3 separate regions of the Homo sapiens genome follow, and regions 1 and 3 are each linked to region 2. Evidence: fine-mapped expression QTL. A gene starts in region 2. Each other region holds a variant in brackets. All regions are shown on one strand. Distances are from middle to middle.

The links. PIP is the estimated chance that this variant, and not a neighbour inherited with it, causes the effect. A credible set is the group of variants that fine-mapping cannot tell apart.
Region 1: its variant is the best candidate, but not a certain one, in a credible set for the expression of RDX in fibroblasts (GTEx, PIP 0.78).
Region 3: its variant is the best candidate, but not a certain one, in a credible set for the expression of RDX in lung (TOPMed, PIP 0.63).

Annotation. Positions count from the first base shown.
Region 1 is chr11:110,237,827-110,242,178 of GRCh38, forward strand. The region is part of intron 10 of RDX (radixin); the gene reads right to left. Among named protein-coding and RNA genes, the nearest start is that of RDX, 57 kb to the right of the region's middle. The variant C/T (reference allele first, on the strand shown) is at 1,653.
Region 2 is chr11:110,294,673-110,298,672 of GRCh38, forward strand. RDX (radixin) reads right to left here and starts at 1,942. Exons shown (of 14, transcript NM_002906.4): 1 at 1,795-1,942. RefSeq lists an enhancer at 1,039-1,911 and silencers at 1,125-1,184, 1,315-1,414, 1,425-1,474, 1,525-2,324.
Region 3 is chr11:110,362,780-110,367,131 of GRCh38, forward strand. It overlaps LINC02732 (long intergenic non-protein coding RNA 2732), which reads left to right. Exons shown (of 4, transcript NR_135100.2): 2 at 3,582-3,755. Among named protein-coding and RNA genes, the nearest start is that of LINC02732, 9.8 kb to the left of the region's middle. RefSeq lists a silencer at 125-419 and an enhancer at 479-1,000. The variant C/CT (reference allele first, on the strand shown) is at 1,969.

The DNA of each region.
Region 1 (4,352 bases), 57 kb before region 2:
GGCTGAAGTGCAGAAGCTCACTGCAGCCTCGAACTCATGGGCTCGAGCAATCCTCCCGCCTCAGCCTCCCAAGTAGCTAGGACTACAGGCGCTATACCTCGTTTCCAACTTGGCAAAAGCCTAATAATTTTTAAAGAGAAATGAAAATCTTCTGCAATTCAAGTTATGTAAAAAGGCTACAAGCACGTAACTATTTTATTTTTAAAAAATAATCTCTCCATCTGAAGTTTTGACCTCAGTAAACAAATTGCCATGTTTCAGAAATCTATAATACATTTCAAAACTTCCATTAAGGTTTTACTTATCTAAACTAATAAGTAAATCCAAGAAATTAAGATTGAAAACAGTATTTACTGACCCCAAAATAGGAATTTTGATGTGATTATATGAATTATTGAAAAATGTGAGTTATTGGTATATATTCATTCCTAAAGCATGAAGATAAGCAATATTGGGAGATAAATAACATGAATTTTAATCCTTAGGTGCATAGATCACTAAATCAACTCTTTTCTTATTCCAATGAGTTGAACAGGAAAGGAAAATAAATTTTTAAGAGAGTTTAACAGTACTAACTTTAAATATTATTTTGACAATTATTTAAGCCCTGTGACAGAAGACAATAGAATGCCACCTAGTAAGACAGTACAAGGTCCTACAAAGAATTATTTTCCCTTACTGTATACTAAGAAAATCTATATGTCATGAAATTTGAAAGCTAACTGTAACTTACAAGCTTTTACTTACTGTTCTTAATTTTCTTGGTCTTGATCAGAACTAGTTGAGTAATTGCAGTTAAGACTTGGAAGGTTTTAGGCCAGGTGTTGTGGCTCATGCCTGTAATCCCAGCACTTTGGGTGACTGAGGTGGGTGGATCATTTGAGGTCAGGAGTTTGAGACCAGACTGGCCAACCTGGTGAAATCCCGACTCTACTAAAAATACAAAAATTAGCCAGGCATGGTGATGGGCGCCTGTAATCTCAGCTACTTGGGGAGGCTGAGGCAGAAGAATCTCTTGAACCCAGGAGGCGGAGGCTGCAGTGAGCCAAGATTGCACCACTGCACTCCAGCCTGGGCGACGGAGCAAGACTCTGTCTCAAAAAAAAAAAAAAAAAACAAAAAAAACACTTGGAAGGTTTTGAGAGGGTTGGAGAAGAATGACTCTTTGGTTAGGCTTTGGTTAGGCTCACGCCTGTAATCCCAGCACTTTCGAAGGGAAAGGTGGGAAGACCGCTTGAGGCCAGGAGTTTGAGACCAGTCTGGTCAACAGAGTGAGACATCATCTCTTCTTAAAAACTAAAATTAAAAAAAAAAATCAGTAGCTATTTATATATAACAACAGTAAACAATCTGAAAAAGAAACCAAGAAAGCAATTCCATTTACCATAGCCAAAAAAAAAAAGTAAAACACCTAGGAATCAATCTAACCAAAGAAGTGAAAGAAGGACATTGGTCTAGGCAAAGATTTTTTGTGTAAGACCTCAAAGGCACAGGCAAAGAGAGATAATGGGTGTTACATCAAGCTAAAAAGCTCTATACAGCAAAAGAAACAACCAACAAAGTGAAGAGATAAACAAAGAATAGAAGAAAGTGTCTACAAACTGTCTATCTAAAAAAGGACGAAAAACCAGAATATATAAAGAGCTCAAACT[C/T]GATAGCAGAAAACCAAATAATCTCGTTTACAAATGGGCAAAACATCTGAACTGACATTTCTCAAAAGACGTACAAATGGCCAAAAGCTATATGAAAAAAATGTTCATCACTATAATCACAGAAATATAAATCAAAACCACAATGAGATATCATCTCACCCCAGTCAAAATGGCTTGTATCAAAAAGACAGGCAAGGCTGGGCAAGGTGGCTCACGCCTGTAAATCCCAGGACTTTGGGATTTACAAAAATTAGCTGGGCATGGTGGCACATGTAATCCCAGTTACTTGGGTGGCAGAGGCTAAGAATCACTTGAACCCGGGAGGTGGAGGTTGCCTGGGTGATAGAGGAAGACTCTGTTTTTAAAAAAAAAAAAAAAAAAGGCAGTAACAGATGCTGGCGGGGATGTAGAGAAAAGGAACACTCATACACTGTTGGTGGGAATGCAAATTAGTAAGGCCGCTATGTAGAACAATATAGAGTCCTCAAAAAACTAAAACTACGGAATTACCATAGTATCCAGCAATATCCAAAACATAGTATCCAGCAATATCCAGCAATAGTATCCAGCAATATCCAGCAATATCCAAAACAAAGGAAATCAATATATTGGAGATAGTTGTACTCCTACGTTTATTGCAGCACTATTCACAATGGCCAAAACATGAAGTCAACCTAAGTGCTTAAAGAAAATGTGGTATACATACACTATGGAATATTATTCAGCCATAAAAATAAATGAAATCCTGTCATTTGCAGCAATATGGATGGAACTGGAAGCCATCACGTTAAGTGAAATAAACCAAGCACAGAAAGACAACTATTGCATGTTTTCACTCATATGTCAGAGCTAAATCTCATAAAGATAAATAAACTGGTGGTTATCAAAGGCCAGGAAGTGGGTGGGGGGAGTTGAAGGGAGGAGAAAAAGAATAGAAATGTATTTATTACTACTGAACTGTATACTTAAAAACGGTAAAAATAGGCCGGGCGCGGTGGCTCACGCCTGTAATCCCAGCACTTTGGGAGGCCGAGGCGGGCGGATCACGAGGTCAGGAGATCGAGACCATCCTGGCTAACACGGTGAAACCCCGTCTCTACTAAAAATACAAAAAAAATTAGCCGGGCGTGGTAGCGGGCGCCTGTAGTCCCAGCTACTCGGGAGGCTGAGGCAGGAGAATGGCGTGAACCCGGGAGGCGGAGCTTGCAGTGAGCCGAGATGGCGCCACTGCACTCCAGCCTGGGCGACAGAGCAAGACTCCGTCTCAAAAAAAAAAAAAAAAACGGTAAAAATGGCCAGGCACGGTGGTTCATGCCTGTACTCCCAGCACTTTTGGGAGGCCGAGGTGGGCAGATCACCTCAGGTCAGGAGTTCGAGACCAGCCTGGCCAACATGGCAAAACTGCATATCTACTAAAAATACAAAAAATTAGCTGGGTGTGGTGGCGGGCGCCTGTAACCTCAGCTACTCAGGAGGCTGAGGCAGGAGAATCACTTAAACCCAGGAGGCGGAGGTTGCAGTGAGCCGAGATCACACCACTGCACTCCAGCCTGGGCGACAGAGTGAGACTCTGTCTCCAAAAAAAAAAAAAAAAAAAGGGGCGGGGGGGCAAAGATGTGTACATTCTGTATTATATGTGTATATTTTACCTCAATAAAAAATAAATAATATAAAAATTCTATGTGGCTATTTGGCTATAAAGACAAAATGTATACGGCACTGGATGTTACCATAGCGATATTCTACGATTACTCATTTTAGAATCTGCCTTCTAAAATTCAGATAATCAAGCTGGCCTATCAAACTTTTCTTTCTTTCTTTTTCTTTTTTTTATTTGAGATGGAGTCTCACTCTGTTGCCCAGGCTGGAGTGCAGTGGCACGATCTCAGCTCACTGCAACCTCTGCCTCCTGGGTTTAAGCAATTCTCCTGCCTCAGCCTCCGGAGTAGCTGGGATTACAGACGTGTGTCACCACACCCAGCTAATTTTTTTATTTTTAGTAGAGATGGGGTTTCACAAGGTTTGCCAGGCTGGTCTCGAACTCCCGACCTCAGGTGATCCACCCGCCTTGGCCTCCCAAAGTGCTGGGATTACAGGTGTGAGCTATTGCACCCAGCCTCAAACTTTAATAATTAATTCTTTTCATCTGATTGACTGATATATAAAACAACACCCACAAAGCTCATGGTTTTATCTTCCATCTAAACAAGCAAACAAATAACTAAAGAATTGAAAGTAGGGTCTCAAACCAATACCTGAATATCCATGTTCATAACAGTATTATTCACAATAACTAAAACACAAAAGCAACCTGAGTGCCCATCAACAGATAAGCAAAATGTGGTATACAAATAGAATATCATTCAGCCTTAAAGGAAGGCAATTCTGACATATGCTACAACGTGGATGAACCTTGAGGGCATTATGTTAAGTGAAATAAGCCAGTCACAAAAAGACAAATACTGTATGATACCACTTATACAGGTAGAATACTCAAAATCACAAAGACAAAAAGTAGAATGATGGTTGCCAGGGGTTGTGGGGAGGGGGGAAATGGGGATTGTTTAATGGGTGCAGAGTTTTAGTTTTACAAGATGAAAATAATTATGTAGCTGGATAGTGGTGATGGCTGCACAACATTCCCAATATATTTTGCATCAGTGAACTACATTACTTAAAACGGCAAAAAACTGGCCGGGC
Region 2 (4,000 bases):
CAAAAGGAAAGTAATCAATTTGACTTTCAGTTAATTAATCACAATTTCAAAAAAAAAAACAAAAGGACAGACTCAACGTATTTTCCCTACACCCAAATTAATTACATCTATTCTACAGCTACTTCTGAGACTCTCCTACATACTCTTCCATGTGTGGGGATACAGGAGTGAACAAAACATTGTATGTGATTCCTAAGGTCAAGAACTCAACGTTTTTTCAATGCCACAATCAAATTCTGTCTCATTTAAATAAAACTGTAAAGAATGCCAATGTCTATTCATTCCTTGCTAATAATATACCAACTGTTTATTAAATTCCATCATATATAAAAAAGCGATTAAGCAAAGAAAGTCACTGCAATCGTCTTTACAGCATACGATTAACTTCAAAAGGAGTGTTTTACATGTTGCTGTATTTGAAGGAAAGTATTATTAATCTCTGGAAGATAAAGCACACTGGGGAAAGCAAAGAAATTCTGAAAATAAAAAACTGCAATCCTGAATATTAGTCTCCTTTCTCAAATCCAGTGATGCTGTTTTGGCAAATGGATCAAGCCATTATTTATCCAGCAACATGAACGGGGTAATTGTTCCTTCTTAGCTCCATCAGTCATATAAAAGAGTATTTAGTGTTCTAAAAAAAAAAAAAAAAAAAGAAGTATGCTCCTTAAACAATAGATTACAATGTCTATGTCAAAGTACTCGTTTATCAAATAAACCCTTATTATCTTAGACTTTTATATTTACATCCTGCCAGTCTTAGTGCCACAAGAATGCCATCGAGTTCCTCAGCAACGTGTCTTCCACCAAAATCTCAAATGTATTTTAAAATATATTTTTATGAAGTTGACTTTTAACACATTTCCAACCTAGTAACTACTCTTTAAGGAAAAAAAAAAACCACCAAATATTGGGAATGTCTGAAGAAACATGACATCTGTCTAGGAAGTGATGTAGTCTGTTTAAACTGAAAAAAAAAAAAAAACAAAAATGCACTGCCCCCTTTCAAAGTTAGTCCGGGAATTGAGTTTAGAATCCTTTAAAGGAAAAGAGGGATATCATGTACTGAACTTGTCTGGTGGGGTCTGAGACACTAAAACTGAGCGGCCTCAAGGGCCCGAGAAAGTTACAGGGCTCCGAGAGCTGCAACAGCAGCAGGTAGAGCTGCGGCCGGGAACCGCGGCCCTGGCCTGGCGGGTGCGAGCGGCGGGAGCGACTGGCGCCCCAAAGCCTGTCATGCAACATCCCCTTTGCCACTGGGGCGGAACGCACGCTCTCTAGTAATTTAACACCCCTCCTTTCAAACTGGAGGCCGGGGAACAAGTTCTAATAAATGTAAAATCGAATTCTACCTACGCTGAATATCTGGATTTTCAAACAACCCTTGGGACCATGCCAGCCCGGGCCCGGGGCCCAGTCCAGGCAGCGGGAGCCCACCGTCCCCAGGGCGCTGGGGGTCCGACACCGGCGCTGAAGGCAGACTCCGCGCCCCGAGGAAAGGAGAATCCCGCGGCGGCGAAGGTCGACTTTGGCCCGGCCAGGCACGTTCGGGCCGCGGCTCAGCCACGACTCGGGCAGGGCCTCGCGGCCCCTACCAGCCCCGGGAGGAGCCTGGCCGGCCGGGCCGTTACCACAGTGGCGCCTCGGCCAGCTGGGCGCGAGCGGAGGCGCGCCAAGCCCTGGCGGCGGCGCCACGGCCGGGCAGCACGGGCCCCGCAACTTCGCGCCGCCACCTTAGCGTCTCCGGAGGAACCGGGAGCGGGGAGTGGGGGAAGGGAGGGCGCCGCGCCTTACCCGGAGAGCGGGCGGCTTCTGCCCGCCGGCGTGTGGCTGGGGCGCTGCGCGGCGGCGCGGCTGCGACAGGGAGGGAGAAGCGGTGGTGCGAGCGCTGGCCCGCGGGAGACGAGAGGCGCCGCCGCCACCGCAGACAGCTCCGCAATATGGCCGCTCGGCGCCTCCGCGGGAAAAGGCGGGGCTGCCCGGCGCCCCCCCGCCTCCCCCTGCCGGCCGGCCGTCCTCGCGCCGCGGACTGAGCGCCAACGCCGCCGCTGGGGGCCGCCCCCGCCCCGCCCCTCCCGCAGGCTCGCAGCCGCAGGCCTGGCTCCGGGCGTGGCCGGGGGTCGCGGTCTGGGGCCGGCCAACGCGAGGTGGGTGGCTGCGGGCTCGGGAGCGCCCAGGGAAATAGGGCGAATGCGCCGGAGGGTCGAGCCCTTCCAGAGAGCGCTGGGCTCCAGCTAAACCTGCGGTCGAGGGAAGCGGAGCCGCCCAGCCCAAAGCTCGGAGTGTGCCCGCCGCCTCCCCAACGAGTGGAAACTTGAAACTCCCGCTGGTGCCAGCAAACTCACTGAGGGCGTTGCCGTCGCCCCCAGAGGAGGAATTCTTCCCAGAGGGAGCCGGGGACCAAATGAAGCGTGAGACTTGGCTGTTAGGTTTGAAGATCCTGGACTGGGAAGGAGAAAAGGGCCTACCTGAGCGGAATTTAGATTTGCAACAAAGAACGTTTACATTATTTTGGCAGGTTTTAGCCAACTAGAAAAACTTAATTTTTCAGCGACAATTTTCAAACTTCACCAAAACCTCAATGGATAAGACCCCAAATCAGGAGTGCAAATTTTAATCCAAGCAAGGATGTGTGATAATTTTTTATTACCAACGACATGCTTTGGCAGTTGGAAGGAGTTGGTTAGCAAGAAAAAGTTGGAAGTAGGGCCCCAAAGAGCCGCCAAACCTACATAATTCTAGATTTAGAGAAAGTTAGGCATTCGATCTTAAGACTAAGTCTAGCCCACTCACTTTAGTTAGTGGCTGGGATGAGACAGGAAGCTCCTGACTTCTGGATCAGTCTTCTGTCATCTAATCCATGCTGAGTCCCCTCAGTATTGTCTGCTGGGATGATTCAGGGAGCAAAACTTGCTATGAGTATACAAACAGCAAGCGCACAAAATCAGATTCGCCTGGCTTGCCCTGTTTGCAATACTTTTTTTAGCTTATCTTTTGTGAACAAACTTTAGATTCAAATAACAAAACGCCTGAGTATACTTACTTTTATAGGACAAATAACTCCTATACTTCCTGCCTTAGCATTTACCTTAGGTGAGACAGTAGCTTTTCCAGGAAATATCTGCAAATCACTTTCACTAGCCTGCCTCTTCAGTGAGTTTCCACTATTGCCCTTTGAGACCTCTCCGAACAATTAAAAGCCCCCAAGAGACTCAAGGGTTAAACTCAAGGGCCTTTAGATAGCAAATTCCTCAAGGATGGGAACCAGGTGTGTGACTTGCGACCAAATAGGTTCTTGTGGTTCTTAGGGACCACCAAAAGATCACTCCTTACCTCTCCCTAGGGTGCAAGAATTATCCTGGTTATTGTTCAGCCTACCACATCAGGTTGCAGGCATAGTCAAAGTATTACGTAATACTTCCCATGAAGTAGGTAAGAAAAAAAAGTATTATGTAAATTCCTACATAGTACACTAATCAAATGAAATTATATAACACACTTTTGCAACTGAAAGTGAAGGATTCACTGTTGTTGGTCAGGTGCCAGACACTGGTGTGAAATTCTTTTACATGACTGTCTCTTTTAATGGTTACAAAAACCCTCTGGGATAAATACTATTATTGACCCTTTAAAAAAAATCGATGAATAAGACAGCTTAAAAAGAGGTAAGTAATTTCCCCAATGTAACAAAACTAGGAAGTGGCAGAGCAGTGACCAAACCCAAATATATGTTTGACTCCAAAAGCCTTGATTTTATCCTATCTTCTGCAACAGCAAACAGACCAAAAATTGCAACATTTTAGTTGGGTATCCTATTAGTAAATATTTAAGTGAAAGATAACAGTCAAGGCTGGTGAGATAAAAAGGGTACTCTCAGACATGGTGAGTGGGAGTGTAAACTGAAATAATCTCTTTATAAAGCTATTTGGCACTGTGATTCAACCCCTAAGAACTTTCATGGCAGGGCATGGTGGCTCATGCCTGTAATCCCCGCACTTCC
Region 3 (4,352 bases), 68 kb after region 2:
GTTTGGAATATGATTGATTTCGTGTGTGTGTTAATTAGGTTTTTTTTTTTTTTAATTATTTTCCCCTGCTTGGATTATCTTTTTCCTTTGGGTCAGTTGTTTTGTTTTCTAAAGCTTTCACTTTTGTATTGTTTTTCCTGAGAAGTGTGGTGTTCTCTATTGTCTATTCATTTGAATGAATTCAGAACCAAACAAATGCCTTAATTTAGCACAACCAGCTTGTGTGGGTTTCCTCTTCAATTGTTTAGGTTTGTTTCTCCAGGAAGGTTTTCCCTGAATAGAATGACTGGCACGAGTTCTGTGTAAGTAGGCAGGACTTTTGGACAGGAAGGCTTCCCTGTAGGTTTCCTGTGGGCAGAGTAGGCAAGAAGGCTGGGGAACCTGAGCTTCCCCAGGAGGAGGTAGAGACGCATTTTGAGTTTGATTGTTTCCCCTCTGAGTTTATAAATGTAGAGATTCAAAGTTTCTTCAGTTATCTCCTTTTAAGCTACAAGACCCTCCGGAGGAACACTCTCTCTGCCCTTTCTTTCTAAAAAGCAGTGCCCTGGCTTGTAGCCCGAGGCCAAAAGTCTCAGCTGCCTAGCTTTGTTTACACAGGTCACAGGAAAGGGGCCCAGCTGTCCCAAGGCACTGAATCCAGTTCTTTAATGAGGCCACTGTTGATTGCCCGCACGGCCCATCATTGTATTGTTGACCAAGTGAGGAGTTTCTCTGGGCCCCCTTGGGAAGACACATACTTATTTCCTGTGCCCTGGCCTGCAGTTTCTCATCAGTTCATCCATCTGCTTTGTATCTTTTAGAAATTTCCCAAAACTCTTGTGTGCTGATGACACTCTTTCTTGTTTCCTATTGCTGTTATTCACTCATTTTCTTTAAAGAATATTTTCTGTCACTTTTATGGGAATGTGGAAGATAGAAGAGGTAAATACATGTGCTCATCCACCATTTTGTGTACAAGCGCACACACACAGTACACATACATGCACAAGCACACGCACACACACACGCAATACACATACACGTGAAAAGCAAATACAGTAATGCATCCAGTTAATCCTTTGGGGGAAAGGCAGATTCCTATTAATATAAATTATCAGAATACAATCACTAGATCTCTCAGTTGGTTCCAATGTTTTGCCCAGGTTATGCTTATTTTAAAAATTAATACTCAGCAATGTGTCAGAAATTACAGCTATGAAGTCTGAAAGTAAAAAAAATTACAGTGTCATTTTAGAATTATTTTACAAAATTATCTGTACCTGAAAAGGAAGACATGGTCACTGTTGCTAGTGTCTTCCCAGTCCCTTTACCTTGGGATTTTGACTTGAGTACCTCGGTTCCTCAGTGAATATGAGGGGCAGCTTGCCAAGGCATTGTTTTAGGCACAATTTTGTAAGAAGTGCTGCTGTTCAACTCTTATATCCTCTGGACACATAAATGCCATTTGGAGTCTCCTAATTCAAATTCCCATCCTTACAAATTCCTTAAAGAAGTGTTTAACTTAAGACAAAAACAACCACAGGCCAGGTGTGGTGGCTCACGCCTGAAATCCCAGCATTTTGGAAGGCCAAGCCATGAGGATTGCTTGAGTCCAGGAGTTTAAGACCAGCCTAGGCAACATAGTGAGATCCCATCTCTAAAAAAAAAAAAAAAAAAACCCAAAATTAGCCAGGTGTGGTAGTGCATGGCTGCTGCAGTCCCAGCTACTCAGGAGGCTGAGGTGGGAGGATTTTTGAGCCCAGGAGGTCAAGGCTGCAGTGAGCCAAGATGGCGACACTGCACACTGGCCTGGGCAACAGAGCGAGACCTTGTCTCAAAAAGGAAAAAAACAAAAACAAAAACAAAACAAACAAGAACAAAAAAACACAAACATTTTGATTGTAAGAAACAGAACCCAAAATGTGAAATGAGCAAGGTGCTCAAAGCTAGGAAATCTGAGGCCAGATCTGAGTTCTACTACTCACTAAC[C/CT]TGTGGTCTTGGGAAAAGGATTTACGTTTTCTAAACCTCCATTTTCTGAATTTTAAATTGAAGATAATAATAGTACCTACTTCATAGGATGGTTTTGAATATTAAGATAGTATACATAAGTCCCTTAGCACATTACCTGACACATAGTATGGGCCTCATTAGATATTAGCATTATCATTAATATCTGCAAATAATTCATATTTATATTACAGAGCAGTTATGGAATAAATATTCAATTCCTTCTTATTTTTATATTCATAAAATATAGAGAAATATTCCTTACTTCCTAGTTCCACCTGGATAGTATTATTTTGGCTTCTTTTTTTTTTTTTTTTTTTTTTTGAAATGGAATCTCCCTCTGTCGTCCAGGCTGGAGTGCAGTGGCACAATCTCGGCTCACTACAAGCTCTGCCTCCTGGGTTCACGCCGTTCTCCTGCCTCAGCCTCCCAAGTAGCTGGGACTACAGGCGCCCGCCACCACTCCTGGCTAATTTTTTTGTATTTTTAGTAGAGACGGGGTTTCACGGTGTTAACCAGGATGGTCTCAATCTCCTGCCCTCGTGATCCGCCGTCTCGGCCTCCCAGAGTGCTGGGATTACAGGCGTTCTGTTTTTTTACCCGGCCTGTTCTTTTTTTTTAGATAGTAAAATACACAAGACATAAAATTTACCATGTTAACTCTTTTTAAGTGTACAGTTCAGTGACATTAAAAATACTTTTGGGCCGGGCACAGGGTCTTGCTCTGCTGCCCAGGCTGGAGTGCAGTGGTGTGATCATGGCTCATTGCAGTCCTGACTTCCCAGGCTCAAGTGATCCTCCCACCTCAGCCTCCCAAATACCTGGGACTACAGACACATGCCACCACGCCTGGCTAATTTTTTGTAGAGATGGAGTTTCGCCATGTTGCCTGGGTTGGTCTCAAACTCCTGGTCTCAAGTGATCCACCTATCTTGCCCTCTCAAAGTGCTGGGATTAAAGGTGTGTCATTCTTTTTTAAGACTGAAGAATATTCCACTGCATGTGTACACCATGTTTTGTTTATCCACTTATCTGTCCATAGGCACTTGGGGTGCTTCAGCTCTTGGCCGTTATGAATAAGGCTGTTATGATACAGGTGTATAAATATTTGGTCAAGTCCCTGCTTCTTTTTTTCTTTTTTTTTTGAGACGGAGTCTCGCTCTGTTGCCCAGGCTGGAGTTCAGTGGCACGATCTCAGCTCACTGCAACCTCCGCCTCCCCAGCTCACACCATTTTCCTGCCTCAGCCTCCCGAGTAGCTGGGACTACAGGCTCCCACCACCAGGCCCGGCTAATTTTTTGTATTTTTTAGTAGAGACAGGGTTTCACCGAGTTGGCCAGGATGATCTCAATCTTCTGACCTCATGATCCACCCGCTTTGGCCTCCCAAAGTGCTGGGATTACAGGCGTGAGCCACCGTGCCCGGCCCCTGTTTCCATTTTTTGGGGTGTACACCCAGAGGGGGAATTGTTGCATCACAGGGCACTGGCATTTAAATTCTCACTCTTCTCATTTGGTGTCTCACACCAGTTTGCATTCCTGTTTGAGCGAATTTGTAAATCACATACCATATTTGTTTTCTTCTCTGTTTCACAGATAAATATGCTGAGGCATGTTTTCAAGGAGGGGAGAGAGATTCCTTTTCCTCAGCCGGGCACAGAGCCAACCTGAAGTGTAGCACTGTGGTGACCTGGCGGGATCTGCTCTCCAGTCACTCCCGAGGGCCCTTCTGGGGACAAGGAGACTTTTCTGTGCGGCCTGTTGATTTGAGTAGGTATAGCCTTTCTGCTAGCCACCAGACACAGCTCTATAAGAATTTACTCTCAACTATCCCATGAATAAGAAAACACTTAGGGAGGCTTTTACCTATCCATGAATAGTTACTTCTGTTCAACAGTCCTACAAATGTTTTCGAATGCCTGAAGTGTGCCAGACATGTACTAGGCAACAGGGTTAGAAAAGTGTGGGAAGCTTGGTCCCTGGCCTGGAGAACTTTAGTTCAGTGGGGAGCTTACAGATATTCCCCCCATACCTTTCAGAGCATGGATGTTTACAAAGTTGTCAAAGAGTATTTTGGTGTGCTTTGGCAATGGTGGATCTAGTGTTGTGGGCCTTCTAAAAATATGAAATGATGAATTCACAATTAGTTATAAGGTTTTGAAAGGGATTAATACAAATGGGTGGGGTGGGGTGGATGGGAGGAAGGTCCTGAAATAGTTTTATTAACTTGGTAGTAAATAATTTCTGGATTTGAGGAGTATTAAAAGGATCCTTCACTCCCAAACCTCTCCCTCGATAGTCATATAATGAGATGCCTAAAGTTTCTGTCATTATTTTCATTCCACAGTTAAGAAATCAAAGGGGTTG